Homo sapiens: one gene and its partner. The protein of the gene in region 1 interacts with the protein of each later gene in a biochemical or structural test. Each region holds a gene or a part of one and is shown in the gene's direction. Other genes may lie near its edges. The genes, in order: ACKR4 and CCL25.

The links.
Region 2: the proteins of ACKR4 (region 1) and CCL25 form a complex in vitro, tested with the Homo sapiens proteins (one study listed by BioGRID).

What each region holds. Positions count from the first base shown.
Region 1 is NC_000003.12:132,588,651-132,603,886, forward strand, and holds ACKR4 (atypical chemokine receptor 4), read left to right. Parts: upstream 1-8,619; 5' UTR 8,620-8,673; intron 8,674-11,486; exon of another isoform or gene 11,487-11,738; 5' UTR 11,739-11,747; coding exon 11,748-12,800; 3' UTR 12,801-13,994; downstream 13,995-15,236. Other genes in the region: ACAD11 (acyl-CoA dehydrogenase family member 11), read right to left, coding at 14,579-14,677. UniProt on the Homo sapiens protein: Atypical chemokine receptor that controls chemokine levels and localization via high-affinity chemokine binding that is uncoupled from classic ligand-driven signal transduction cascades, resulting instead in chemokine sequestration, degradation, or transcytosis.
Region 2 is NC_000019.10:8,045,380-8,061,251, forward strand, and holds the start of CCL25 (C-C motif chemokine 25 isoform 1 precursor), read left to right. Parts: upstream 1-7,380; 5' UTR 7,381-7,384; coding exon of another isoform or gene 7,385-7,443; intron 7,444-7,620; coding exon of another isoform or gene 7,621-7,670; coding exon 7,671-7,743; intron 7,744-8,662; coding exon of another isoform or gene 8,663-8,733; exon of another isoform or gene 8,734-9,463; intron 9,464-10,772; coding exon 10,773-10,890; intron 10,891-10,986; coding exon 10,987-11,120; intron 11,121-12,421; coding exon 12,422-12,541; intron 12,542-15,872. UniProt on the Homo sapiens protein: Potentially involved in T-cell development. Recombinant protein shows chemotactic activity on thymocytes, macrophages, THP-1 cells, and dendritics cells but is inactive on peripheral blood lymphocytes and neutrophils. Binds to CCR9.

The sequences.
Region 1 (15,236 bases):
TTCCTTCAAATTTAATGGAATCTTGTTTTAATCAGTTCAGAAAGGACCATCCTCATTTGTACTAATGAGAAAAGATCCCCCATTCACATATTTCAAAGTTAAGTTTTAAAAATCTTAAATGTCATATTCTTCACAGTAACTCTATTTGGCTTTCCTAATTTATCCAAACGTCTAAATTTTCAAATTGTTTATCATTGTTTATATTTACAGAAATATGTCCTTTTGATTTTATAGATGCTAACAGGTAAAGAAACTGCTATGGTCTGAATGTATATGTCACCCCCTAGAAGTCATGTTTTGGAATCCTAACCCCCAAGCTGATTTTATGTGGAGATGAAGCCTTTGGTCCGAAAGGCGGTGATTAAGTGATTAAAATGCAATTAGTGTATTTATCAAAGAGGCCTGAGAGAGCTTGGTCACCTTTTTCACTATATGAGGACAGAACAAGAAGGTGCCATCTATGAACCAGAATGCAGGCCCTCACCAGGCACCAACTCTATTGGTGCCTTGTTCTTAGACTTTTCAGCCTCTAGAACCATGAGAAATACATTTTTGTTGTTTAGAAGTTACCTAATTAATGGTGTTGTGTAATAGTGGCCTGAATGGACTATGACAAAATTCCACTAATCTGAGGACCAACCCAAAGAACATTAGGATGATTTAATGGCAGATGACAATACTTACCTTTCATTGTGGATCTTACCTAAATGACTTATCTGGAAATGCTCAGTTGGGGTAATCTTTTATCCCTGGCTATGCAATAATATGCAATCATGCTTTGATTCTTAGTTAGAAATTATAGAGGAAGAATCATTTACAGAGCGTTCACTTCTAATTTTTCAACTGGATATTTTTCTACTTGGGACTATCTTTGAGGTTTTAGTTGTAGGAAGCCTTGGCCAGTGCCTCTCTAGATGCCTACAGGCTGAAGGATCAACGCTACTTGCCCCACATAATGCATTGTGTGGGCATACTCCATGGTGGGCATACTTCTGAAAATCAGATTAGGACATAACAACATGATTTGAGGTTCATTTTCATTAGAAATATTTTCTTTAAAAAAAGCAAACTTTTATTTTAGGTTTGGGGGGTAAATGTGAAGGTTTGTTACATAGGTGAACTTGTGTCATTAGGGTTTGTTGCACAGATTATTTCACCACCCAGGTATTAAGCCCAGTACCCAATTGTTATCTTTTCTGCTCCTTTCCCTCCTCCCACCCTCCACCCTCAAGCAGACCTCTGTGTCTGTTGTTTCCTTGTTTGCGTTCGTAAGTTCTCATCATTTAGTTCCCACTTATAAGTGAGAACATGCGGTATTTGTTCTTGTGCTAATTTGCTAAGGATAATAGCCTCCAGCTCCATCCATGTTCCTGCAAAAGACATGATCTCATTCTTTTTAATGACTGCATAGTATTCCATGGTGTATATGTACCACATATTCTTTATCCAATCTGTCATTGATGGGCATTTAGGTTGATTCCATTGTGAGTAGTGCTGCAATGAACATTCACATGCATATGTCTTTATGGTAGAATAATTTCTGTTCCTTTGGGTATATACCCAGTAATGGGATTGCTGGGTTGAATGGTAGTTCTGGGTTTTTTGTTTTTGTTTTTGGATTTTTTTGAGACAGTCTCACTCTGTTGCCAAGGCTGGAGTAGAGTGGCGCGATCTCAGCTCACTGCAATCTCCCTGCTCCCAGGTTCAAGTGATTCTCGTGCCTTGGCCTCCTGAGTAGCTGGGATTACAGGCATGGCCACCATGCTTGGCTAATTTTTGTATTTTGGGGTTTTGCCATGTTGGCCAGGCTGGTCTCAAACTCCTCGCCTCAAGTGATCCTCCCGCCTTAGCCCCCCAAAGTGCTGGGATTACAGGCATGATCCACCGTGCCCGGCCAGTAGTTCTGTATTTAGCTCTCTGGGGAATCTCCATACTGCTTTCCACAATGGTTGAACTAATTCACACTCCCACCAACAGTGTATTAAGTGTTCCTTTTTTTCTACAACCTCACCCGCATCTGTTATTTTTTGACTTTTTAATAATAGCCATCCTGACTGGCGTGAGATGGTATCTCATTGTGATTTTGATTTGCATTTCTCTAATGATCAGTGATATTGAGGTTTCTTTCATATTTTGTTGGCTGCATATATATCTTCCTTTGAAAAGTTTCTGTTCATGTCATTCGCCCACTTTTTAATGAGATTGTTTTTCTCTTGTAAATTTGTTCAAGTTCCTTATAGATGCTGGATATTGGACCTTTGTCAGATACATAGTTTGCAAATATTTTCTTCCATTCTGTAGGTTGTCTGCTCACTCTGCTGATAGTTTCTTTTGCTATGCAGAAGCTCTTAAGTTTAATTAGATCTCACTTGTCAATTTTTGCTTTTGCTGTGATTGCCTTTGGTGTCTTTGTCATGTACCCTTTGCCCACCCCTATGTCTAGGACAGTATTGCCTAGGTCATCTTCCAGGGTTTTTATAGTTTTGGGTTTTACATTTAAGTCTCTAATTCATTTTGAATTAACTTTTGTATATGGTGTAAGGTACGGGTCCAGCTTCAATCTTCTGCATATGGCTAGCCAGTTATCCCAGCACTATCTATAGAATAGGGAGTCTTTTCCCCACTGCTTGTTTTTGTCAGCCTTGTCAAAGATCAGATGGTCATAGGTGAGCAGCCTTATTTCTGGGCTCTATTCTGTTCCATTGGTCTATGTGCCCATTTTCAGAGATATTTTTCTTTCTCTACTTTCCATTCTGGCAATCAAGAACATCTGGGTAAATCTTTCAAGGTTTCACTGATGCTAGCTATCCAGCATCAGTGAGCTGAAGTAAAATCTTCTAATTCCTTTGAACCCTGGTCTAAAGCCCTCTTTTTCGAATATTCAGAATATATAATTTTGTATCTAATATTTCCCAATATTACTTCTTACCTCATTCTTTCTATCATTTAAAAATGTTGGCCGGGCATGATGACTCATATCTGTAATCCCAGAATTTTGGGAGGCTGAAGTGGCAGGATCGCTTGAGCTCAAGAGTTTGAAACCAGCCCGGGCAACCTAGCGACACCTCGTCTATACAAAAAAATTTAAAAATTCACCAAGCACGGTGCAGCACATCTGTAGTCCCAGCTACTCGGGATGTTGAGATGGCAGGACTGCTTGAGCCCCGGGAAGTCAAGGTTGCAGTGAGCCGTGATCATGCCACTGCATTCTAGCCTAGGCAATAGAGTGAGATTTTGTCTCCAAACAAAGCAAAGAAACAAAAATGTTGCCACAGCCTTATATAAATGCCCAATAGATTTCCGATACCAGGTAAATTTTGAAGAAACTCAAGAAGTAAGGCAAATAATTCTTTGATTCTGTCTTCCTCAATCTTATATGGAGAACAATTAATATTCTAAAAAATACAATTTTTAAGTTGGATGTCTGTTGTCATCATGAAGTAGAGGAAGTAAGGGTGAATACATAGTTTGTAGAATTTGAAATATTTGTATTTAACAATGATGTTTCAGAAAAATGAGAAAAACCCTTCCCAAAGATATCATCTCCCCTTAGCTACAAGCAGAATTTGGCAAGTGCAGCAGTTGAAACAACCTTCTTTTATAGAGAGTTTTGCTTGTTTGTGTCATTTTAGTTAATGAACAAGATACCCAATGTCATAAATAAAATATATTAGAGGAAATCTGAATAGAACAGAGAACATTTAAACATATATGCTGTGTCACAGGCCTTCATGAATGAAAACAGATGGCTTAGATAAAGTAATTTTGTTTTTAATCCAGACACTGTGGTATTTCAAGGCTGTTCAAGTGCCAGGATTAAGTCAGGCTAAAAATTACATCTCCCTGATGTTAGTTGATGATTTTTAATTTCTTAGGCTTTTACCCACAAAATCATTTTCTAACAAAAGGAGAGATGATAGGTGGATAAAAAAACATGACCTTTGAGTATAGTGTGGTTTGTAACAATTAAGAAAGTGATGTAAACAATTACATACTATGAAGCATAGATAGCCATCCACAAATTCTCAAGGCCGTTTCTTCTACCAACATAGAATTTCTGAGGTAGAACACCTGAACTTCATTTGGTTTTAGCTTTAATACTAACAATTCAAATTGGAGTAAGTACTATTTTACAATAAAATTTCCCTTATATGAAAAAAGATGTTCATTGTACAATCCCACAGTTAAAGAAAAAAAATCCCATGTGTTCTCTTAGAGTGTGTGTTATTTTTAACAGGGAAATCTTCAAAATTCACTGAATCCATCTCTAGGTTTACATCTAAATAATAAGAATTAAGTAATAATGTTACAAGCTGCTGCTATTACTGTTGTTACTATAGAAAATGGTTAGATCAAAATAAATCCCAAATAGAGCAGAGTTGAAAATTAAAAAAAACCAAGACATAAAAAAACTAGAAGAAAAATAATATAATATTTATTAAATCTCTGGGTGAGAAAGGATTTTAAAACTTAAAAATGATAAATGAAATCAAAATCAGACAAAGATCAATTGGTTTGTCTATATAAAACTGCTGTACATTAGAAAATAAAATTTAAAAGCAAAAAAAAATTGGGGGGGAATGTTTCAACATTTATGACAAAATGTATGCAATACTTAGCTCCCTAAATTATAAAGAACACCTAAAAATCAGTATACAGATGGGCAAAGAACACAATTGCAAAAAGAGGAAATAAGAATAATAAAAGAGATTTTTAAAATTGCTTAACTTTACCACTAATCAAATAAACGTGGAGTACAGCAATAATGAAAACATTCAAAAGCAGTTTATTATCCAGTATTCCACACATGCCTGGCAAGGGTAGGTAAGGGGTGCTGAATTTGTTACAAGTCATTTAGAAAGCAAAGTGGTAGTAAAACAACACATTCTATTGACAATATTTTAGAAAAACAGACATTTCTATACATTATTGGTAGAGAACAAAGTAATACCATCCCTATGGAATACAATTTGGCAATATTCATCAAAATTACAGATTCATCCCAGCACTTTTGTTGGCCAGGATGGGTGGATTGTTTGAGTCTAGGAGTTGGAGGCCAGGCTGGGCAACATAGCAAAATGACAGTACAAGAGGAGGGATGAGAAGAGGGTGTGGGGAGAGAGATTCTTCAAGAACAAGGGACATTGCTATGTTAGGGAGGTTAAGAGTAGGAGCCAATTTATGGTAAGCAGCAAAATGGAATCATAGTCAGTTCTAAGGAATATGAGAAGTAGAAGAGAGCTAAAGAAGCATCAAGTAAGTACTTTGAAAAGTTGCCTAAGGTGAGTGATGCTTCTGCCTACCCTCTAAGCTACATGATTATTTCACGTATTTTGTCAAATTTCCCTATTACCACTGTCTCTCCTAGTTCTATCAGGAGAAAAGGGAAAATACAGGAAAAGGCCAGCCAGTCAGCTAGTTTCACCATGATTCATACACTATGATTTATACACAGCATTCATACACACGCTACCAGAGGAAGCTGCTCAATCCTGAGATCCCCTATGCCTCAAGGGCTTTGTATGTGTCTGAATTAGCAAAAACAATGTGTAAATTCAAAAGATGTAAAGATTATAGCATTACAACCGATTTGCAATAAAGGAATCCCATTTACAAAAAAGCTTATGGTTGTTGGGGGTGGGGTAAATAAAGGAAAGGGATAGATACTTTTGAATCTATAAAAGAGTATCAAGATTCTATAATAGATGGCATCATAAAATAAAGAGATATAAGAGATAAGATGATAAAATAGACTAAAGATCTGAATTTAGAACTCCAGCTCCATTGCTAAACTTTATGTCTGTGGAGGATAAGTTACTTAAATATCAGTTGATTGATTCATGAATTTAATCATTATTCATTAAGCTGGTACCATGAGTAAGGTACCAAGCCAAATGCTGAGGATACAGCAGGGTATAAGATAGCTATGGAAGATAGAAAATTTAAATAAGTACCAACAATACAGTGAAAAGACTGGTATATCTGATCTAATCTGAAAGAGTTATGGAAGGCTTCCTGGATTAATGTTAAGGTCAGACCTAAATCTGAATTGTAAATAGGAGTTAGGGAACTAAAATAGGGTGGGAAGAGTGCTCTAGACAGGAATAATAGTACTTGCAAATGCCTAAAAGTCAGTATTGTGTATCATATAGAAAGATCAAAGAGATTATTATCTGATAATTATGGAGGCTGCAGTTGCAGACCAGTTGTTAGATAATAATCAAAATGGACAGTAGAATGTTTTTATTAATTCAAAATATTTTTGAGTAGTCATTATGTGTCAGGTATTATTCTTGGTACTCGGGATATATCAATGAACAAAGCAAACAAAAGTCCCTGTTCTGATGAAGCTTATGTTCTAATACAGGGTGAAAGACAAATTACAGCAATCACAGCATAAATGATATGGTGCATTAGAACATGTTAAGTGCTATGGGTCTGGTGGACTGGGAGTCCAGATGGATGAGGGTTATTTTAAGTAGAGTAGTGAAGAATTGCCTCAGTGAGCTGGTGGTGATTGGGCAAAGACTTGAAAGAGAAGAGGAAGTGAGCTTTGCAATTACTAAGACAGAGCACATTCCAGCAGACAGAAGAGCCAGCACAAAAGCCCTGATAGGATTGTGACTGGTATGCTCTCAAACAGCAAGAAGCTGGGTATGGCAGAACAAGTAGGCAAAGGGGTGAGTAGTGTGAAATGAGGTCAGAGAGACAATGAGGGATGGAGGCAGACCTTGTGGGATCTTGTAGACTACTATGAGAGTTCATGATGAAGCAATTGCAATAGAAGCAAAAATTGACAAATGGGACCTAATTAAACTGAAGAGCTTCTGCACAGCAAAAGAAACTATCAACAGAGTAAAGAGACAACTTACAGAATGGGAGAAAATCTTTGCAAACTATGCATCTGACAAAGGTCTAATATCCAGCATCTATAAGAAATTTAAATTTACAATTAAAAACAACCCTATTAAAAAGTGGGCAAAGGATGTGAACAGACAGTTCTCAAAAGAAGACATACATACCGCCAACAATCATATGAAAAAAAGCTAAACATCACTGATCATTAGAGAAATGCAAATCAAAATCACAATGAGATACCATCTCACACCAGTCAAAATGGCTATTATTAAAAACTCAAAAAATTACAGCTGCTGGTGAGGTTGTGAAGAAAAAGGAGCACTTACAAACTGTTGGTGGGAGTGTAGAAAACAGTGTGGCAATTCCTCAAAGACCTAAAGACAGAAATATCATTCGAGCCAACAATTCCATTACTGGGTATATACCCAAAGGAATATAAATTATTCTATTATAAAGACACATGCATGCATATGTCCATTGCAGCACTATGCACAATAGCAAAGACATGGAATCAACCTAAATATTTGCCCATCAATGATAGACTGGACAAAGAAAATGTGGTACATATACAGCATGGAATACTATGTAGCCATAAAAAAGAATGAGATCATGTTCTTTGCAGGCACGTGGATGGAGCTGGAGACCATTATCCTTAGCAAACTAACAAAGGGACAGAAAGCTAAATACTGCATGTTCTCACTTATAAGTGGGAGCTAAGATGAGAACACATGGACACATGGAGGGAAACACACTGGGGCCTATCAAAGGGTAGAGGGTGGTAGAGAAAGAGGATCAGGAAAAATAACTAATGGGTACTAGGCTCAATACCTGGGTGATAAAATAATCTGCACAACAAACCCCCATGATACATGTTTACCTGTGTAACAAACTTGCATGTGTACCCCTGAACTTAAAAGTTTTTTTTTAAAAAAGAGAAAAATAGAAAAAATGGCATGGGTCTGAAATAATTTCTGCAGGTGGAGACTGAGCCTGGCCTTGCATGAAAAAATAGATAACTGCCATGCAAATTTGAGGAAAGCCAAGTTCAAATAGACCATGAGGGCCAAATCAGCATAAATTTCTCTTCTTTCTCTAACTTACTTGTGTGGAAATGTGGAAAAAATAAACAGCCTCCCAGACTGAAGGATTTTGAAGGTTCATATTCTAGCTTTGGGAAAAAAGGTAACAAGAAAGCAAGAGAGTTTAAAGCCATGGGAAAATACTCTGGGACAAGGATAGAGAAAGTACAGTGAAGCCAGGAAGACTCTAGTAGTTTAAATAAATATTAAATGATGTGGCATAAAAATGTTAAATTCTATTGCAAATACCTAATGATTACTTATAATTTAATCTTTGATAATTTAGTCTTCAAAAAGATATTTTCCTTGGTTAAAATCATATTTGCTTTCTTCCTTAGGCAAAATAACTTTAGAGAGTATTTCTCTAGATGCTACCTACAAGTGCTGCCTAGATGCCCTCAGGTGGATTCTCCTTCTGGTTCAGCAGTCAGTAGCTCAGCTGCAGGCACTTTCTTGTCCCCTTTGACTAAGTGGAAACTATGAAAGGTCTATAGTTTTTGAAAAAAGATGGATTTTCTCAAATTTGTAACCTAAACCACTTAAGAAGTTGAATTTAACTTCACAGATGGTTTTACAGGAAATAAAATATCAAGTGCTCACAAGGTTAAATTTCAGGAAAGCCTTCTTGGATACAAGATAAAGGCGGGGTGTAAAGTGAAAACAAAAGTAGCTGGAGTTAGGTCATTTGATTTTATACTCTGTACTCAAGACTGCTCCTCTCTGCCGACTACAACAGGTTGGTACTTTATTTCTTTTCTTATTCTGACTTGAATATTTTTTTAAGCCCAAAGATCTTGTATATTTACTTATATAGATGGAGTCTTGATGCATAAAAGTTTAAATGCTTACTTGTAAAAAAAAAAAAAAGGGTTACTTGAAAATAGCTGTACAGTTTAACCTTAAATGAAAATCTTAATATAGCAAGAAGAAAATACGATTTTAAATGCCATTACTTGTCGGTAAAACTTTGTTAAGGAGAAAATAGGTTTTATTATACCACTTTTTTTCACTTTCTTTTACAAGTACTGATTTTTTTTTTATTCTCATGGTAATTATAAAGACACTTAAAAGCGTGTCTATATATCTGCCGGAAGGATCATTTCTGCAAATAATTCCATTTCTACTCTTTTTTACTCACATTTTTAGTAAGATTAATTCTTACTTAAAAATTCCCTTCCTTAATATATTATAATATTTGGCCATATTATTTCTTATCATCAGGTTCAAGATTTTCTGATGAAAGAGAAAGGAAGAACAAGGTTCATACTGTGTTAATAATTAATGCATAAGAACATGAAGACCAGAGTAGTCTTCCAGATTGGAACTTTTTAAGTAACTTTAATGATAAAAAGAGTCATTTAAAAAAGTTGGCACCCGGTTTTTACATAATGAAAGCAATTCTTCTATGTGGTGTCTTTCTTCAGAGCCTTCTTTTCTTTGCTATATTCATTCAAAAAAAGTTAGCAAACATAAGAACATTTCTTTTGAAAATGTACTATAAGTTGGCACACTGTTTTAAAAATAATATTTTCATTATTGATTCTATAAGAATATTTGAGATACTTCAGAGGACAAAAAGAACCCAAGGAAAATAGAAAGGATAAGAAAAAGGAAAACAAAATTCAGCACTATAATAAAAACACTGAAAGTCATTATTTTATACATTCCAAAACTTACGAATTCTGTGCAAGCTTATCTTAATACTACGGGGTGCTAGTAGCCAACATAGTGCAATAACAATGTTGACATAGAAGATTTCTGGCATACTATCTATCCATTCTAGAGTAACAGCTTTATACCTGTTGGCAAAAGCTTTAATTTGACAAATATTTACTGAGAAGCTACTTTGTGCCAGGCACATTAACAAGATTTTATTTACAAACACAAATCAAATAGGTCATGCTTTGAGGAACTTAAAACCTAGAGGAACAAGGTAGTATGGGAAACGCATCCTTTCCACAGAATGGATCAGTTCTCTGAGGGGTATGTAGAGATTGCTAATACATCAGGAAAGTCTTCTGGGGAGGTCGCATCCGCGTTTATTGAGTAGGAATTGGCCCTTCCAGGGAAGGGCAGGAAATTGTATGGTAGATAAAGGAACAGAATGAGCAATGATGTAGACAGATGCTGCTGCATGGTGGGTGCCAGCCCACTGCTGAGAAATTAGTCCTATCACTGTCTCTAGTGTGGACACAGAGTAGGGAGAGGTGGCAGGAGCCATGGATGGCACCACATTATGAAGGGAGCCTTGGGTGTTATGCTAAGGAGCTTGGATTGTGGCTTTCAGGTGAAGAGATGTGTCTTCCAGATGAGGAACAAAACAGAGGAGAGGTAGATTGGCAATTTAGAGATCAAATACTCTGGTGGAAGTAAGAAAAACGTTTTTGAAAAGGAGGTATTGAGGAGGAGTAACAACAGGCTATCAGTTAGAAAGATACTGCTTGGCCAGGTGCAGTGGCTCATGCCTGTTACTCCAACTCTTTGCGAGGCCAAGGCAGGTAGATTGCTTGAGCCCAGGAGTTTGAGACCAGCCTTGGCAACCTGGCAAAACCCCGTCTCTATCAAAAATACAAAAAGTTATACAGACTCATAACCTGGTCAATAAATAAATAAATAAATGGATTAAAATTTAAAAATAGGCTGGGCTCGGTGGCTCACGCCTGTAATCCCAGCACTTTGGGAGGCCGAGGCAGGTGGATCACGAGGTCAGGAGTGCGAGAACAGTCTGGCCAACATAGTGAAACCCCATCTCTACTAAAAATAGAAAAAATTAGCCAGGCATGGTGGTGTGTACCTGTAATCCCAGCTACTTGGGAGGCTGAGGCAGGAGAATCGCATGAACCCGGGAGGCGGAGGTTGCAGTGAGCCGAGATTGTCCACTGCATTCCAGCCTGGGCAACAGAATGAGACTCCATCTCAAAAAAAAAATTAAATATTAAATATTAAAAAAGAAAGATATTGCAGTAGGCTAGGTGAGAAACATAATAGCTGAATTGTGCAAATGTGTGGAAGAGTGCAGATTAAGAGGAGAAGACAGATTCAAGACCTACTTGGAAGGCAGAATCAGAACTTGGGAACTGATTGGGAAGCAGGGATGAAGGTAAGAGAGAAGACAAGAATGAAGCAGGCTTACAGCTTAGATGATTAGAAGATAGTGGTGCTACTAAAAAACAGTATACAATAAGCAAGTAGTGACCAGTTTTGGAGGGAAGTTGGCTAAAGGAGATCTTGTTTTATAAAAGGCAACTAGTGAAATTTAGTGCAAATGCTGAGAGAATTTATTTAACTTATTTAAATTAAATTTATAAATAACATCAAAATAAAAAATAAATTTAATTTAAATAAACCAAGTAATTTGCTATTTTCGTTTTTATTCAATTTGTTGTAGATATACTTTTACGATTCACAAAATTATGTATGTAAAGATTATAACACTATTTATTCTTTTTAGTTAAAATCTAATTAAATTTTCATATTTTAAAAATCATTTTTACATAAAAGTCTTCACTTTTATTTAGGATTTAATGATTAAGAAAATTCTCCAGGGCATTATGTTTATTGTCCTGTTCAAATCCAAGCTCTTTCACACAGAATTGTACAAGCAAAGTTTGAGTAACTAATCTTGGGGTCATATTCCAATGTGGCTCCCATTAAAGCATTTCAAAGAGTGCTAGATTCAGGCTCACATATGTTACAGCAACAGGCTATACTCTAGGGAAAGAACAAAACAGCTTGATAAAAACTGTTTCCTTTTAAGCATATTTAGACAAATATCTATCCTGTATTCTCTTTGCCATCTAGATTGGAGCCATGGCTTTGGAACAGAACCAGTCAACAGATTATTATTATGAGGAAAATGAAATGAATGGCACTTATGACTACAGTCAATATGAACTGATCTGTATCAAAGAAGATGTCAGAGAATTTGCAAAAGTTTTCCTCCCTGTATTCCTCACAATAGTTTTCGTCATTGGACTTGCAGGCAATTCCATGGTAGTGGCAATTTATGCCTATTACAAGAAACAGAGAACCAAAACAGATGTGTACATCCTGAATTTGGCTGTAGCAGATTTACTCCTTCTATTCACTCTGCCTTTTTGGGCTGTTAATGCAGTTCATGGGTGGGTTTTAGGGAAAATAATGTGCAAAATAACTTCAGCCTTGTACACACTAAACTTTGTCTCTGGAATGCAGTTTCTGGCTTGTATCAGCATAGACAGATATGTGGCAGTAACTAAAGTCCCCAGCCAATCAGGAGTGGGAAAACCATGCTGGATCATCTGTTTCTGTGTCTGGATGGCTGCCATCTTGCTGAGCATACCCCAGCTGGTTTTTTATACAGTAAATGACAATGCTAGGTGCATTCCCATTTTCCCCCGCTACCTAGGAACATCAATGAAAGCATTGATTCAAATGCTAGAGATCTGCATTGGATTTGTAGTACCCTTTCTTATTATGGGGGTGTGCTACTTTATCACAGCAAGGACACTCATGAAGATGCCAAACATTAAAATATCTCGACCCCTAAAAGTTCTGCTCACAGTCGTTATAGTTTTCATTGTCACTCAACTGCCTTATAACATTGTCAAGTTCTGCCGAGCCATAGACATCATCTACTCCCTGATCACCAGCTGCAACATGAGCAAACGCATGGACATCGCCATCCAAGTCACAGAAAGCATCGCACTCTTTCACAGCTGCCTCAACCCAATCCTTTATGTTTTTATGGGAGCATCTTTCAAAAACTACGTTATGAAAGTGGCCAAGAAATATGGGTCCTGGAGAAGACAGAGACAAAGTGTGGAGGAGTTTCCTTTTGATTCTGAGGGTCCTACAGAGCCAACCAGTACTTTTAGCATTTAAAGGTAAAACTGCTCTGCCTTTTGCTTGGATACATATGAATGATGCTTTCCCCTCAAATAAAACATCTGCATTATTCTGAAACTCAAATCTCAGACGCCGTGGTTGCAACTTATAATAAAGAATGGGTTGGGGGAAGGGGGAGAAATAAAAGCCAAGAAGAGGAAACAAGATAATAAATGTACAAAACATGAAAATTAAAATGAACAATATAGGAAAATAATTGTAACAGGCATAAGTGAATAACACTCTGCTGTAACGAAGAAGAGCTTTGTGGTGATAATTTTGTATCTTGGTTGCAGTGGTGCTTATACAAATCTACACAAGTGATAAAATGACACAGAACTATATACACACATTGTACCAATTTCAATTTCCTGGTTTTGACATTATAGTATAATTATGTAAGATGGAACCATTGGGGAAAACTGGGTGAAGGGTACCCAGGACCACTCTGTACCATCTTTGTAACTTCCTGTGAATTTATAATAATTTCAAAATAAAACAAGTTAAAAAAAAACCCACTATGCTATAAGTTAGGCCATCTAAAACAGATTATTAAAGAGGTTCATGTTAAAAGGCATTTATAATTATTTTTAATTATCTAAGTTTTAATACAAGAACGATTTCCCTGCATAATTTTAGTACTTGAATAAGTATGCAGCAGAACTCCAACTATCTTTTTTCCTGTTTTTTTTAAATTTGTAAGTAATTTTATAAAATCCACCTCCTCCAAAAAAGCAATAAAAAAAAAACAAACTATAATAAGCTTTTCTGATTCTTTTCAAAACATTCCTGGTAAGTTCCTAAAGACATAATTTGCTTCTATGATGTCAACTTTCTTACTAATAACTGGTTATCATGACAAATGTTAGGTTTATCATATATAGTCTAGGTGTAATCCTCAGACTATCATTTTCATCTGGGTTCCAATTTCTTAACTTCCTAAAGAATTCATCTGTTTATACAAGTCTACCACTGCCGATTGACTAAAAAATACATTATCCCATGCATAAAATGTCCTATTTTCATTTAAACACTTTATTTTTGAGTAATAAAAATATGTACCACAATAAATTATTGTTAATTAACATGTACAGCTTATCTTTTTTAAAAAAATTTGCTGTAAATTATTATAATCCATGTAATATGCTCCTACTAAAATTAAATTTTGCTAGCAATTACATTGGTCAAAAATAGTATGCACTAATGAATTTTATCTCTAAAACTACAAAAAATGACATGTTTTCTGCTCTTAAACATCACCTAACCAACATATGTTATTTTAAAATTACTTTTTCTTTCAACCACTATTTCTAAGTTTGAAAATGCTTTCACATGCAGAATTAATTAATTATTTTTTCATTTTTTTGAGACAGAGTTTCGCTCTTGTTGCCCAGGGTGAAGTACAGTGGTGCCATCTCAGCGCATGTCAACTTCCGCCACCCGGGGTCAAGCAAATCTCCTGCCTCAGCCTCCTGAGTAGTTGGGATTACAGGTGCCTGTCACCACACCTGGCTAATTTTTGTATTTTTAGTAGAGACAGGGCTTCACCATGTTGGCCAGGTTGGTCTTGAACTCCTGGCCTCAGGTGATCCACCTGCCTCAGCCTCCCAAAGTGCTGGGATTACAGGTGTTAGCCACCGCACCTGGCCTACACATGCAGAATTTAAAGAATTATGATCATGAAACTGATCACTATGTATCATAGCAATATTCTAGCATAGCATCTGGAACAAAGGATCAGTGTGTTAGGTGAAAAAATTAGGCTGAACACTCACCACTGCTCCACCATTTTTTGCCGTTAATTACATAGCTATCTTCATCTCGTTGGATGCTGCATTCAATATTCGTGGCATCACTTGAAGCTACATCAGGTTCTATAAATAAACAAAAGCTGAATTTACAGGCAGGCAGATATCATCAGTAGACTTAGATAAGGATATGAAAACTTTAAAAACAAAGACATCTTTATCTTTTTCAATGTCCTTTCACTCCCCATTCCACCCTGCTTTTCCCATAACCTACACACAGTATTCAATAAACGTGCACTGAAAGAATGAGTGAATGAATGAAGTATACTGAACATTGGGGATCAGTATTTTGAACTGTATTTTTGGCTTCCTCACTGATATATGATTTGGGATACAACCCAGTCCTTTCTCCAATCAGCAAATGTAGATAAAAGTATTGTTTTCTACTTCTCACAATGGAGATATGTACTAAATATTGATTGGCAAGACAGATTCCCCCCATATAGTTTACTGTCTTAAGCAATTTCTAATGTGCCTTGCAAATTCCATCAGGAATGCCTTCACTGATTTATATACTTTGCATTCTTTAAAGCCTGTTCAACACTTAAGGTCTTCAGAAAGTTCTCCATGGGACACCCTTAGACAACTGCTTTATTGCATGGCACTTCAGAACTGTCTAGCTCTC
Region 2 (15,872 bases), on another chromosome or scaffold:
GAGGTGGAGGTTGCAGTGAGCCGAGATCGCACCACTGCACTCCAGCCAGGGTGACACAGTGAGACCCTGTCTCAAAAAAAAAAAAAAAAAAAAAAAAAAAAAACGGCATCCAGCCCATCCCTAGTCTCTTCCAATCACACCAGCATTGGTGACAGTGATCCTCATCTGAAAATTGTTTTTAAATTTTTTTTAAATTAAAATTTGTTTTTCCTTGTCAGCAGAAAGTCACATCTGAATGTCTTGCTTCATTACTTGCTGCTTCTCTTGTCTGCAATGCTACTAGGCACTGAGCACGTGGGACTGACTCCTTCACTGCTTGTCCCCAGCACCCAGCTCAGTGCTGGGCACATAGAGGGTGCTCAATAAGTGTTTATTGAATGAATAACAAATGGTCCCACATAGATGTTCCATGAGGCATCTGTGACATCAACATCATCATTTTTTTTTTTTTTTGAGATGAGTTCTTACTCTGTTGCCCAGGCTGGAAGGCAGTGGTGCAATCATAGCTCACTGCAGCCTTGAACTCCTGGGATCAAGCAATCCTCCTGCCCCAGTCTCCTGAGTAACTGGGACTATAGATGCCGGTCACTTTGCCTGGCTATTTAAAAAAAAAAAATTTTTTTTTTTTTTTGTAGAAATGGGGGTCTTACTATGTTGCCCAGGCTGGTTTCGAACTCCTGGGCTCAAGTGATCCTCTTGCCTTGGCCTCTCAAAGTGTTGGGATTATAGGTGTGAGCCACCACGCCCAGCCAGCGATCATCATCTTTGATAGTTGCAATGTGTCGGCTTGCTCACTGCTGTCACCCTGGGGCACCCTGGGGCCCCGCATGTGGCTGGAACATAAGGGATACTCAGAAAACAGATGTGGAAAGGGTGAGTAGAGCTCAGCACGTTCAAAGAGGGACTCAGGACCCTATGGGACCCTCTCCCCAAGGCCTGCCACCCTCTCTCTCCATGCAACCCCTCCTCTAGCCCAAGGCAGCAGGGCCAGGATCAGGCAGTCACTCTTCCCAGCTGTCTGGCCCCCGCACATCCTGCAGGGGCAGGACAAGTACAAGGATGAAAGCCAAGGTCATGAGCTCGGTAATACCAGTAGTCTGAATCCCTCTGGAGAACCACGGCCCCTGCCCAGGCCACTGCTACAGCTGTCCCCTGGAAGACAGAGGCCTCAGGTTAGCCTGGGGTGGGGATCCCCTCAGAACTGACTTTCCAGGAGCCAGCAGAGCCAGCTACATCAGGGACTTAGGGTTCAGGTTAGAGTTAACCAAATTCTCGAACATCAGGCCAAGGGCTTGCAAGACATCCTGGAAAAACCCTTCTTCCTTCCTCCTCCTTCTCCTCCTCCTCCCCATCCTCCTCCTCCCCCTCCTCCTCCTTCTCTTCCCACTCCTCCTTCTCCTCCCCCCCCTTCTCCTCCCCCTCCTCCTTCTCCTCCCCCTCCTCCTTCTCCCCCTCCTCCTCTTCCCCCTCCTCCTTCTCCTCCCCATCCTCCTTCTCCTCCTCCTTCTCCTCCTCCTTCTCCTCCTCCTCCTCCTCCTCCTCTTCCTCCTCCTCTTCCTCCTCCTCCTCCTCCTTCTCCTCCTCCGGTTGCTGGGCAACCACTATGCATCTGGACCAAAGCAAGAGGCAGCTGGTTTAAAGACACACATAGACTGAAAGTGAAGGGAGGCAAAAAGATATTCTTTGAAAATGAAAACCGAAAGAGATCAGGGGTAGCTGTACTTGTATCAGATAAAATATTTTTTAAGTCAAAACTCTAACATGAGAGGAAGAAGGTCATTATAGAATGAAAAAGGGGTCAGTTCATCAAGAGGATAAAACAATTATATATATATGCACCTAACATCAGAGCACCTAAATATATAAAGGAAATATATATAAAGGAAATATGAACAGATCTGAACTGCAATACAGGAATAGTACTGCACTTTCAACAATGAACACCAGCCTGGGCAACAGGCCACAAAATTAAAAATATACATTTGTGGGTTGTGGTGGTGCATATCTGTAGTCCCAGCTACTTGGGAGGCTGAGGCAGGAGGATTGCTGGAGCCCAGGAGTTCAAGGCTGCAGTGAGCCATAACAACATCACTGTACTCCAGCCTGGTGGACAAACTGAGACTCTGTCTAAAAAAAAAAAAAAAAAAAAAAAAGGCAACGAACAGATCCAGGCAGATAATCAGTAAGGAAACATTGGATTTGAAATGCACTGTAGATCAAATGGAACTAATGACATATGTAGAACATTCCATTTGACAGCAGCGGAACGCACATTCTCCTCAAGTGCACAGGGGACATACTCCAGGATAGATCATGTTAGACCACAAAGCAAGCCTGAACAAATGTAAGATTGCCAGGTGCGGTGGCTCACACTTGTAATCCCAGCACTTTGGGAGGTCAAGGCGGGTGGATGACGAGGTCAGGAGATCGAGACCAGCCTGACCAACATGGTGAAACCCCGTCTCTACTAAAAATACAAAAAATTAGCCAGGTGTGGTGGTGGCGGGCGCCTGTAGTCCCAGCTACTTGGGAGGCTGAGGCAGGAGAATGGCGTGAACCCGGGAGGTGGAGCTTGCAGTGAGCCGAGATGGTGCCACTGCACTCCAGCCTGGGCAACAGAGTGAGACTCCGTCTCAACAACAACAACAAAAAAACAAATGTAAGATTGCGATTGTATCAAGTATCTTTTCTGACCACAGTGATACGAAACTAGAGATCAATAACAGGAGGAATTCTGGAAAATTCACACGTGAGAATTCAACAACACTCTCCTAAACAACCAATGTGTCAAAGAAGAAATTAAAACGAAATTAAAAAATATCTTGAGGCCAGGTGCAGTGGCTCACGCCTGTAATCCCAACACTTTGGTGGCTGAGGCAGGAGGATCACCTGAAGCCAGGAGTTCAAGACCAGCCTGGGCAACATAGTGAGACGCTCCCCCCATCTCTACAAAAAATAAAAATAATTAGCCAGGCATGGTGATGCTCACCTGTAGTCCCAGTTATTTGGGAGGCTAAGGTGGGAGGAACACTTGAGTTGGAGGCTGCAGTGAGCTACGATTGTGCCACTGCACTCAGCCTGGGTGATAGAGGGAGATGTTTCTAAAAACAAAATAAAACAAACAGAAACAACAACAACAAAAAACTTGAGACAAACTGAAATGGACATACAATATACCTAAACCAATGAATGCAGCAAAAGTGGTTCTAAGAGGGAAGTTTATAGCAATAAATAAATGCCTACATAAAAAAGAAGAAAGATCTTTCAAATAACCAAATTCTCTTTAAAAAGAGGTAACTGGAGGCTGGGCATGGTGGCTCAAGCCTGTAATCCCAGCACTTTGGGAGGCCAAGGCCAGCAGGTCACTTGAGGTCAGGAGTTCGAGACCAGCCTGGGCAACATAGTGAAATGTAGTCTCTCCTAAAAATACAAAAATTAGCCAGACATGGTGGTAGGCGCCTGTAGTCCCAGCTACTCGGGAGGCTGAGGCAGGAGAATCGCTTCAACCCGGGAGGTGGAGGTTGCAGTAAGCCAAGATCCTGCCACTGCACTCCAGCCTGGGCAACAGAGCAAGACTCTGTCTCGAAAAAAAAAAAAAAAAGAGGCAGCTGTGGGTACAACAGGAGTCCAGGCCTGGCAGACGGGGCTCCTGGGGTGTGGATTGCTCCCTACAAGACTCGTGACCATGCAGGGCAGTGGGGGCCCATCAGAAGCCAAGAGTCTCATCAGGGACCTGGAGGCACCAGAGTTCAGGAGAGCTGCAGGCAGCTGGGGTCTGATATGCAAAAGTGACTACAGGAGGACCCCCACTTCTGCCCATAGTGTTCTCCCAGTGCCCCTGAGCCTTTGCCGATGACCTCCCAGTCATCTGCTCTATGGCGCTTCCCCATTGGGGGACTGTCCTTTTCTTCACAGTATTTAAGAAATAAAAATTAGATTTTCCTGGCCAACAAAAAAAGTAAGTAACTTGGCTTCTCTGACCCTCAATCTCCTCCTTTGCACAGTTGGGCCAATGGTGAGCACCCAGGAGCATCCTTCATCCCACTAGAGGTGCCTGCCACTGGGTAGGGCAGATGTGGTGGTGGCTGGTGCAGGCTTCCCAGAACATCTCATCGCCCCTGCCCACCACCTGGCCACTGCAACCAACTGGGCTTGTCTAGAAAGACACCTGCCTACCCACCCAACCCTGCAGGCTCTGGGGTATTGGTCTCTGAATTTGGCTGAGCTACAGGATGGAGACCACCCTCAACTGCTCCCATCATCAGAGGTGCAGAACAGAAGTCGGTGTGGGGGGCACTTGTTCCCCCCAGCTGTGCTGATTTCACACTGGCGGAGAAGAGGACCCTTGCTGATAGCGGACTGCTCTTTTATTTTTTTATGAGATGGAGTTTTGCTCTTGTTGCCCAGGCTGGAGTGCAATGGCAAGATCTTGGCTCACTGCAACTTCCACTTCCTGGGTTCAAGCAATTCTCCTGCCTCAGCCTCCCAAGTAGCTGGGATTACAGGTGCGCACCACCATGCCCGGCTATTTTTTTTTTTTTTTTGTATTTTTAGTAGAGATGGGGTTTCACCATGTTGGCCAGGCTGATCTCGAACTCCTGACCTCAGGTGATCCGCCCGCCTCGGCCTCCCAAAGTGCTGGGATTACAAGTGTGAACCACTGCTCCCGGCCGATAGCGGATTACTCTTAATGCCCCCAGCTGCTGCAGGAGTGGAAGAGGCCAGTCCAGCCCCGACTGTGAAGGTCTGGCCTTTACTCAAAGCAACTGTGGTCCTCAGAACTCCGGGATCATCCCGTTTCTTGCTCCAACCCCTGGGTCCCAGGTCCCCAGCGCGCCCACCCCAGTGCTCCGTGCTTGCTGGTCCCTGGAGGGCCCCCTTACTGGGAACCCTTCCTCCCCGTGAAGGCTGCCGGCGGGACAAACAGTGAGGGGTGAGGCAGGGAGGGAGACTCACGTTGGGGACCTCCCCCAAGTCTGGGTAACACCGTCTTGGCCGCGGCCCGCGGGTTGGGAAGGTAGGGGGCAGTGAGCCGTAGCGGAGAGGCTGGCCCCAGCCCGCCACGCCGCTTCCCCACGCTCGCAGCCACGCGGAGCCGCGTCCTGGTCCAGCCTCACCCACCCAGAGCAAGAGGCGGAGGAACTGGAACAGCGCCCCGGCCCGTGGGCTGCCACTGGCCGCAGCAACGGGACGGGTGAGAGCACCTGCCCCCGACGCGTCTTAACTGCTCTGGTGGGGCGGGGCTGACCGTGCAAGCCCCGCCCCAGTCTAAGCCCCTCCTACAAAGCCCGGCCCCTTACCATAAGCGCCATCTGTCAGGCTCCGCCCACTGTCTTAAATCCCACTCACTCTGCCCTGCCCCTGACTCGGAGCCATATAGCAAGCCCCGCCCATAGCCATAAGCCACGCCCACCCAGCCCTGCCCCTGGGCTCTAAGTGTCATTTATCTAGTCACGTCCCCGGCTAGAAGCCACACCCACCAGGCCCGGCCCCACCTCTAAGCCCCACTCACCCGGCCATGTGGTTTGGGACAGGGAAGTAGGCTAGGGGCCGCCGCCTCTGGGCTCCCAGTGGAAGGGGAGAAATGAGAAAGGAGTTTAGGATGTGATAAATACCCACAGAGGTCAGATGTAGCTATGGATGCAGGCGATAAAAAGTTTAAAGCAATCAGCTGTGCGGCCTCTGCAGCGCTCCTTTCGCCCTCCCTAATCTTCACCTCGTGTCTCCCCCAGTCCCTGTGTCCTGGCTGGGTCCTGCTGCCCCAGGGAAAGAAGACATGCCTTCTCCCATCCTGGCTAACATGGTGAAACCCCGTCTCTACTAAAAATACAAAAAATTAGCCAGGCGTGGTGGCGGGAGCCTGTAGTCCCAGCTACTCGGGAGGCTGAGGCAGGAGAATGGCGTGAACCCGGGAGACGGAGCTTGCAGTGAGCCGAGACAGCGCCACCGCACTCCAGCCTGGGCAAAAGAGCAAGACTCCGTCTCAGAAGAAAAAAAAAAAAGACATGCCTTCTCGGTGAATGTTGCTTTGCTTCCTGAGGGCATGGCTACCCGGGGCTCCTGGCTTTTCTTCCAAAAACAAAACATTTCTTCCATTTTTTCTTTTTCTTTTGTTTTTTTTTTTTTTTTTTTTTTTGAGACAGAGTTTCACTCTTGTCGCCCAGGCTGGAATGCAGTGGCCCAATCTCGGCTCACTGCAACCTCCGCCTCCCGGGTTCAAGCGATTCTCCTGCCTCAGCCTCCTGAGTAGCTGGAATTACAGGTGCCCCCCCACCACACTCGGCTAATTTTTGTAATTTTAGTAGAGATGGGGTTTTGCCATGTTGGCCAGGCTGGTCTCGAACTCCTGACCTCAGAGGATCCGCCTGCCTCGGCCTCCCAAAGTGCTGGTATTACAGGTGTGAGCCACTGTGTCCGGCCACCGTTTTTTTTTCCATTTTTTGAGACAGGGTCTTGCTCTGTTGCCCAGGCTGGAGTGCAGTGGCATGATCACAGCTCACTGCAGCCTCAACCTCCAAGGCTCAAGCAATCCTCACACCTCAGCCTCCTGAGTGGCTGGGACTACAGGTATGCACTACTACGTCAGGCTAATTTTTTAAAAAATTTTTGTAGTGACGCAGGTCTCTCTATATTGCCCGGGGTGGTCTTGAGCTCCTGGGCTCAAGCAATCCTCTGGCCTCGGCCTCCCAAAGTGTTGGGCTTACAGACATGAGCCACCATGCCTGGCCTAGAGAGTTTCTTTCTTGTTGGGGTTGTTCACCGGTGGGAGGTGCACCATTGTGCCGTGCTGACTATATTCATAGAGTTATGTAACCATCACTCTCATCTAATTTCAGAACAAAAGGAAACCCATACCCTCTCACAGTCAGTCCTTCATTCTCCCCTCCCCCCATCCTGTGGCCACCGCTAATTTACTTTCTGTTTCTATGGATTTGCCTGTGATCACAACCAGAGGATTTCTGTGACATGCTAAGTTACCTAACCATGGTGTGGAAGGAGAGGGAAATGGAGTGAAGTTGGGGACCCACCAGGGAACAGGTGGCTTGAGGGCGGGGGGAGCATGAAGGTAAGGGCTTGTTTGGGGGCTCAAGGCAGTCTGAGCCTTGTTCGCAGGCAGCCAGTGTCCACCAGGTGTGTGCAGGTGAGGGAAACAGGGGAAAAGGCCCTTTCTGGAGACAGTAGGGGTGCTGGCTGGGAGGCCTGGGATGGGGAGTGGGGAGGCAAGGGGGCCTGTGGGTCGAGGTTGGAGCTTGCTGTAGAAGAGGGAGAATTCCAGAGGCTGAGAGTGCAGGTGGAGAGGAGGAGGAAGGGAGGAGGGCGGGCAGGGGGTGGCTGGGTGGGGCTCTGTCTATAAAGAGTGAAGCTCAGCGTGTTGGTCCTGCAGATGGGACAGCTTGGCCTACAGCCCGGCGGGCATCAGCTCCCTTGACCCAGTGGATATCGGTGAGTCTTTTCCTTGAACATGACTGAGATGAACAGCTTTTCCCTCCAGCACAACTTGTTCCTACTTTATACAACCTCCTTCCCTTGCCATATGCCTGGGGCTTAAGAGGGGGGATGTTCCCAGTACCCACTCCCCTCCTCTTCCTCAGTCCTTACCACTTCCCTCCACGACCCCAGGTGGCCCCGTTATTCGTCCAGGTGCCCAGGGAGGAGGACCCGCCTGCAGCATGAACCTGTGGCTCCTGGCCTGCCTGGTGGCCGGCTTCCTGGGAGCCTGGGCCCCCGCTGTCCACACCCAAGGTACTGTGTTCGGCAATGCCTACCACCAAGTGCCCCTCTCCCCATGCCCCCACCCCACCCCTTTTGTCTCTTATCTCCTCCGGAAGTCTCCCCAATCCCATCTCCACTGAATTCTCCCGCTCCTGACATGCAGGAACTCCTGGTGTTTGGTTAGCTCTTGGGATGGGGTCGGGGAGATGGAGAGTCCCCAGTTCCTTCTTCGAGAGCCCCATGGAGTCTTTTGCAAGACTCCTAAAGATGTGAGGGAGCAGAGGGTGGCTTCCAGCTGTGGGCAAAGCCAGTTACTGCCAGGGATGTATTGTAGAATCCTAATCCTGCCGAGCCAGGGGTGGGGTTGGAGATCAGGGCCCTGGAGACTGACAAGAGTGGATTCCCATCCTGGTCCCTCCATGCAGTCCAGCTGAGAGTTAGTTGCTCCTAAACCATTTTTTTTTTTTTTTTTTTGAGACAGAGTCTCACTCTGTCACCCTGGCTGGAGTGCAGTGGCGCGATCTTGGCTCACTGCAACCTCCGCCTCCTGGGCTCAAGCGATCCTTCTGCCTCAGCCTCCCAAGTAGCTGGGACTACAGGCGTGTGTACCATGCCCGGCTAATTTTTGTATTTTTTAGTAGAGATGGGGTTTCACTATGTTGGCCAGAGTAGTCTCGATCTCCTGATCTCAGGCGATCCGCCTGCCTCAGCCTCCCAAAGTGCTAGGATTACAGGTTTGAGCCACTGTGCCCGGCTTCCTAAACCTTTAGGAGCCTCCGTTTCCTCAGCTGCAAAGTGGGAATCTAAAATTCCCACTGCATGGCTCTGACTTGAGGGTCCAGTGAGCTCATGCCTGCAAAAGACTAGGCCTCATGTCTGGCGGCGGCAATAGTAACTGTTCCTGTTATTAATAGGGAACTCTTTCCTTCTTCCCCACTCCCTACCGCAGAGCAAGCACTTGAGGATTTCAGTCGCCAAAGGACAATTCCTGGGCCTGGGGTGTCCCCACGGGAGCCCTGACACTGGGTCCTACATCCTCTGAGTTTCAGCAGCTGGCCAAAGCAGGGTCCCTGGCTGGGCGGCAGACCCAGGGTCCCACCCTCCTTCCCTGTCTGCCCCCACCTGACCCACCTGCCCCTCGGCTGGGTCTGATGGGTCCAAGTCCTTGGCCTTTGCCTGGGAAGGGGGTTGGGCTGTGGTCTGATTGTTTTGCTATCAGAGCCAGGCCCAGCCCAGCCCTTCGATCCTGGCCTCCAGCCTTGGGAACTACCTGCCTGGCACTGCAGTCCGAGGTTCCAACAGAATGCGCTGCCCCTTGCCCTCAGAGGCCGCGGTTGGGAGACACCTGGAGGGCTCGAGTCCTCCCTTTCCCTGCTCCTGCTGGGCTGGGCTCTGCAGGGACTCAGACTCGGCCTCTGGAGGTTAGTTCTGGCAGAGGTGAGATTGCAGAGAACTCCAAAGGCCATTTAGGCAGAGAATTGCACCCCAGCTTCCTCCACTATCTCATCAGCTCATCCTCGGCTCATTCATTCCACCTGCTCATCCCCCCAGAACTTTCTGGCATCACCTCCTCCTCCTCTGGGCACCCCCCACAGTGCCTGTGCTTCCCCCTTTCTGCAGAGATCAGTTTCCCGGGAGCTCCCTGAAGACAACACTAGGTCTAATTCATCTGTGTGTTTCATCTCTGCTTGTCTAGACATTGACATTTACTGAGAGCTCTTTACTTTGTATTAAAACAATTTTTTGTTTGTTTGGTTGGTGTTTTGTTTTGTTTCATTGAGACAGAGTTTTGCTATTGTCGCCCAGGCTGGAGTGCAATGGCGTGATCTCGGCTCACTGCAACCTCCACCTCCTGGGTTCAAGTGATTCTCCTGCCTCAGCCTCCAGAGTAGCTGGGATTAAAAGCGCCCACTATCAGCCAGGCACAGTGGCTCACGCCTGTAATCCCAGCACTTTGAGAGGCCAAGGCGGGTGGATCACAAGGTCAAGAGATCAAGACCATCCTGGCCAACATGGTGAAACCCCGTCTCTACTAAAAATACAAAAATTAGCTGGTCGTGGTGGCGGGCGCCTGTAATCCCAGCTACTCGGGAGGCTGAGGCAGGAGAATCGCTTGAACCCGGGAGGCAGAGGTTGCAGTGAGCTGAAATTGAGCCACTGCACTCCAGCCTGGGTGACAGAGTGAGACTCTGGAAAAAAAAAAAAAAAAGGCGCCCACCACCATGCCTGGCTAATTTTTGTTTTTTGTTTTGTTTTGTTTTGAGACGGTGTCTCACTCTGTCGCCCAGGCTGGAGTGCAGTGGCGCGATCTCGGCTCACTGCAAGCTCTGCCTCCCGGGTTCACGCCATTCTCCTGCCTCAGCCTCCCGAGTAGCTGGGACTCCAGGCGCCCACCACCACACCCGGCTAATTTTTATATTTTTAGTAGAGACGGGGTTTCACCGTGTTAGCCAGGATGGTCTCAATCTCCTGACCTCGTGATCCGCCCACCTTGGCCTCCCAAAGTGCTGGGATTAAAGGCATGAGCCACCGCGCCCGGCCTAATTTTTATATTTTTTAGTAGAGACGGGGTTTCACCATATTGGCCAGGCTAGTCTCAAACTCCTGACCTCAGGTGATCCACCCACCTCAGCCTCCCAAAGTGCTGGGTTTACAGGCATGAGCCACTGTGCTGAGCTGCCAATCAGCTCATTTTTAGGAGGGAAGAACTTGGCTGGGGAGGGGTGGTGTTGGCCCCTCCTCACAGTGCACCTGCACTCCGAGTCACCCTTTTCCCCAGAGCAGGAGTAGAGGTGGCCTTGGTCCGTTCATTTGCTGGTTCCACACCCTTCCCAGCCGGGACCCAAGGGTCCTCTCCAACCTCTGGCTGTCCCAATATCCAGGGATAAGGGGTGAGCCAGGAGGCTTTTTCTTTCCTAAGGCTGTTCCTCAGCCTCTGCCGGGCCTGGAAGGGTTGTGGTATGAGCAGACAGGTATGCAGACAGGTGCCCTTGCCTGTGGCTGGCCCTGCCAAGTTAACATGCAAGGGTGCGAGTATCTGGGCGGCTGTGTGGTTGCAGGTGTCTTTGAGGACTGCTGCCTGGCCTACCACTACCCCATTGGGTGGGCTGTGCTCCGGCGCGCCTGGACTTACCGGATCCAGGAGGTGAGCGGGAGCTGCAATCTGCCTGCTGCGATGTGAGTGGGGCCGTGGGGGCTGGGGGGGTGGGGTGCACACACAGCCTTGCTGCCAGCCTACACCCTAACCTGGGCACCCCCCTCTGCTCACCACAGATTCTACCTCCCCAAGAGACACAGGAAGGTGTGTGGGAACCCCAAAAGCAGGGAGGTGCAGAGAGCCATGAAGCTCCTGGATGCTCGAAATAAGGTTTTTGCAAAGCTCCACCACAACACGCAGACCTTCCAAGGTGGGCAAGACCTCTGCTGGGCATCTAGGGGGCCTGCCCTCCCTGCCTGCAAGCCCATGTGTGGTTCAGACCCCGAGGGAGGGAATTGGAGACCAGAATACTGACACCTGCCTGAACCCCAAACAAAGCCAGTTGCTGGTGAGTGGGGCACCAAGTGAATGACCAACTGATTGAGTCATTGTCCAGTTTTTGTTTCTGGAGATGGGGTCTTGCTCTGTTGCCCAGGCTGGAGTGCAGTAGCATGATCATAGCTCACTGCGGCCTCAAACTTGTGGGTTCAAGCAATCCTCCCACTTCAGATTCCCCAAGTAGCTGGGATTACAAGTGTGTGCCACCAGTCCAGCTCTTTTATTATTATTTTGAGACAGAGTCTTACTGTGTCACCCACGCTGGAGTGCAATGGCGCCATCACAGCTCACTGAAGCCTTGACCTCCCAGGCTCAAGCAATCCTCCTACCTCAGCCTCCTGAGTAGCTGGGACTACAGGCATGCTCCACTAATCCAGCTCATTGTTATTTTATTTTTTATTTTTATTTTTTGAGATGGAGTCTTGCTGTGTCATCCAGGCTGGAGTGCAGTGGCACGATCTCGGCTCACTGCAACCTCTGCCTCCTGAATTCAAGCGATTCTCCCGCCTCAGCCCCCTAAGTAGCAGGAGCACAGGCCCACGCCACCACGCCTGGCTAATTTTTGTATTTTTAGTAGAGACGGGGTTTCACCATGTTGGCCAGGCTGGTCTCGAACTCCTGACCTCAGATGATCTGCCCGCCTTGGCCTCCCAAAGCACTGGGATTATAGGCATGAACCACCATGCCTGGCTCCAGCTCATTATTATTATTATTATTTTGAGACAGGGTTTTACTCTTGTCACCCAGGCTGGAGTGCAGTGGCACAATCACATCTCACTGCAGCCTTGTGTTCCTGGGCTCAAGCAATCCTCCCACGTCAGCCTCCCAAGTAGCTGGGATTACAGGCACACACCACCATGCCTGGGTAATTTTTTATTTTCATTTTGCAGAGACAGGTTGTGCCATGTTGCCCAGGCTGGACTTGAACCCCTGGACTCAAGCAATCCACCTGCCTTGGCCTCCCAAAGTGCTGGGACTACAGGCATGAGCCACTGCACCCAGCCAGTCCAGCTCTTTTAATCAGGACACTTTCCACTGGTACAGATGGAAAGCTCAAGCACATGGGAGACTCATTGGCTTAAATAACCAGTCAACAGCTTCAGGCTCAGCTGGATCCAGGAGCTCAAAGGATGATGGCAGAGCTCTTGCTTATTTCTCTCTCCATTTCTCCAGCAGGCCCTCATGCTGTAAAGAAGTTGAGTTCTGGAAACTCCAAGTTATCATCGTCCAAGTTTAGCAATCCCATCAGCAGCAGTAAGAGGAATGTCTCCCTCCTGATATCAGCTAATTCAGGTAAGGACTCTTGGTCATGTGACTGTCTCCCATCCATCACCTTTGCTGAGGGTTGAGGGCTCGTGATTGGCTCACACTGGGACAGGAGATTCACCTCCAGGACCCAGGAGAGGTGGTTGTGCGGTCAGTGCCGCAGATTCACAGGGGAGGGTCCTCGGTGGCTGTCCACTGCTGTGACTCAGCGCAAAGACACCACAGCAAGTGAGAAAGTAAAGCCCCAGGGGAGTGGCCCAAGAGCTCCAGGGCCCCCCAAAGCCAGCAATTCTCCAGCAGGGACCGGGTGGTTGTCCTGTAATTCTACTGAATTCTGACATTGTGTGTGTGTGTCTCTCTCTATATATACATATAAAATATATATAAGTAAATATATAATATATAAACATATATAATATATAAGTAAATATATAATATATAAATATATATAATATATATAAGTAAATATATAATATATAAATATATATAATATATAAGTAAATATATAATATATAAATATATATAATATATAAGTAAATATATAATATATAAATATATATAATATATATAAGTAAATATATAATATATAAATATATAATATATATAAGTAAATATATTATATATAATATATAAATAATATATAATATATAAATACATATAATATATAAAAATAATATATAATATATAAATATATAATATATAAATAATATATAATATAAAGTATATATAATGTATAAATAATATATAATATATAAATATATATATTTATTATTATTTTTTTTTGAGATGGAGTCTCACTCTGTTGCCCAGGCTGGAGTGCAGTGGCGCGATCTTGGCTCACTGCAAGCTCCACCTTCCGGGTTCACGCCATTCTCCTGCCTCAGCCTCCCGAGTAGCTGGGACTACAGGCGCCCGCCACCACGCTGGGCTAATTTTTTGTATTTTTAGTAGAGACGGGGTTTCACCATGTTAGCCAGGATGGTCTCGATCTCCTGACTTCGTGACCCACCCGCCTTGGCCTCCCAAAGTGCTAAGATTACAGGCGTGAGCCACCGCGCCCAGCCTAAATATATAAATATATAATATAAATATATAAATATATAATATAAATATATAAATATATAATATAAATATATGTAATATATAAACATATATGTAATATATAAATATATATAATATATAATATATATAATATATATAATGTATATATTTATATATAATATATAAATATATATAAATATATATTATATAATATATAATATATATAATATATAATATATATAATATATAAATATATATATTATATATAATTAATATTTTTTTATGGCAGGGTCTCACTCTGTTGCTGAGGCTGGAGTGCAGTGGTGCCATCTCGGCTCACTGCAACCTCCGCCTCCAGGGTTCAGGCGATTCTTGTGCCTCAGCCACCCAAGTAGCTGGGATTACAGGCATGCATCACCACGTCTGGCTAATTTTCATATATTTATTAGAGATGGGGTTTCGTCATGTTGCTTAGGCTGGTCTCTAACTTCTGGCCTCAAGCAATTCTCCCACCTCGGCCCCCCAAAGTGCTGGGATTGCAGGCATGAGCCACTGTGTCCAGCTGACATTGTCTATCTGGAGGTAGTGACACAATCCACAGGTTAAGGACTCAGTCCCACAAGACTGCCCCCATTTCAGATGCTGGTTGCAAGTAGCAAGTTGTCACTTTATTTCTGACTGATTGTCTGTAAGTCAGGGCTTCCACCTCTGGTTGGATCATTCGATAGAACAGCTCACAGGACTCATGGAAGCGCTCTACTTGTGTTTACCATTTTATTGTAAAAGATTACAAAGGGGCTGGGCATGGTGGCTCACGCCTGTAATCCTAGCACTTTGAGAGGCTGAGGCAGAAGGATCAATTGAGCCCAGGATGGCCGGGCGCGGTGGCTCATGCCTGTAATCCCAGCACTTTGGGAGGCGGAGGTGGGTGGATCACGAGGTCAGGAGATCGAGACCATCCAGGCTAACATGGTGAAACCCCAACTCTACTAAAAATACAAAAAATTAGCCGGGCGTGGTGGCAGGCATCTGTAGTCCCAGTTACTCTGGAGGCTGAGGCAGGAGAATGGCATGAACCTGGGAGGCGGGCCTTGAAGTAAGCCGAGATCAAGCCACTGCACTCCAGCCTGGGCAAAAGAGCGAGACTCTGTCTCTAAATAAATAAATAAATAATAAAAAAATTGAGCCCAGGAGTTTGAGACCAGCCTGGGAAACATAGCGGGACCCTGTCTCAAGAAAAAAAAAAACAAATTTAAATTAGCTAGTTGTGGTGGCATGCACCTGTAGTTTCAGCTGCTTGGGAGGCTGAGGTGAGAGGATTACTTGAGCCCAGGAGGTAGAGGTTGCAGTGAGCTATGATCATACCATTGGAACTTCAGCCTGGGGGACAAAATGAGACCCTGTCTCGAAAAAAGAATAAAAAGATATTACAAAGGATAGGGATGAATAAGCCAGATGGAAGAGATGCTTAGGTAGGCAAAGACTGGAAGGGACTCAAGTGTAGAAGCTTCTGTTCCCGTGGAGTTGCAGTACACCACCCCTCCCACACACGGATATGGTCACAAGACCCTGAACCCCATAGTTCAGGCTTTCTTTTTTTCAGAGATGAGGTCTCACTCTCTCCGCCAGGCTGGAGTGCAGTGGCGCAATTGTAGCTCACTGCCTAATTGAGCAGCTAGGACTACATAGCTCACCGCCTCAGCCTCCCGAGTAGCTGGGACTGCAGGCCAGTACCCTCAGCTTACCAGGGATTTTTTTTTTTTTGAGATGGAGTCTTGCTCTGTCACCCAGGCTGGAGTGCAGTGGCATGATCTCGGCTCACTGCAAGCTCTGCCTCCCGGGTTCACGCCATTCTCCTGGCTCAGCCTCTGGAGTAGCTGGGACTACAGGCGCCCGCCACCACGCCTGGCTAATTTTTTGTATTTTTAGTAGAGACGGGGTTTCACTGTGTTAGCCAGGATGGTCTCGATCTCCTGACTTCATGATCCACCAGCCTCAGCCTCCCAAAGTGCTGGGATTACAGGTGTGAGCCACCATGCCCGGCCTAATTTTTTTTTTTTTTTTTTTTTGAGACAGAGTCTCACTCTGTCACCCAGGTTGGAGTGCATGGTGCAATCATAGCTCACTGCAACCTCTGCCTCCAGGGTGGGTTCAGGTGATTCTCCTATCTCAGCCTCCTGAGTAGCTGGGATCATAGGCATGCACCACCACTGCCGACTAATTTTTGTATTTTTAGTAGAGATGGGGTTTTGCCATGTTGGGCAGGCTGGTCTTGAACTCCTGACCTCAAGTGATCTGCCCACCTCAACTGTCCAAA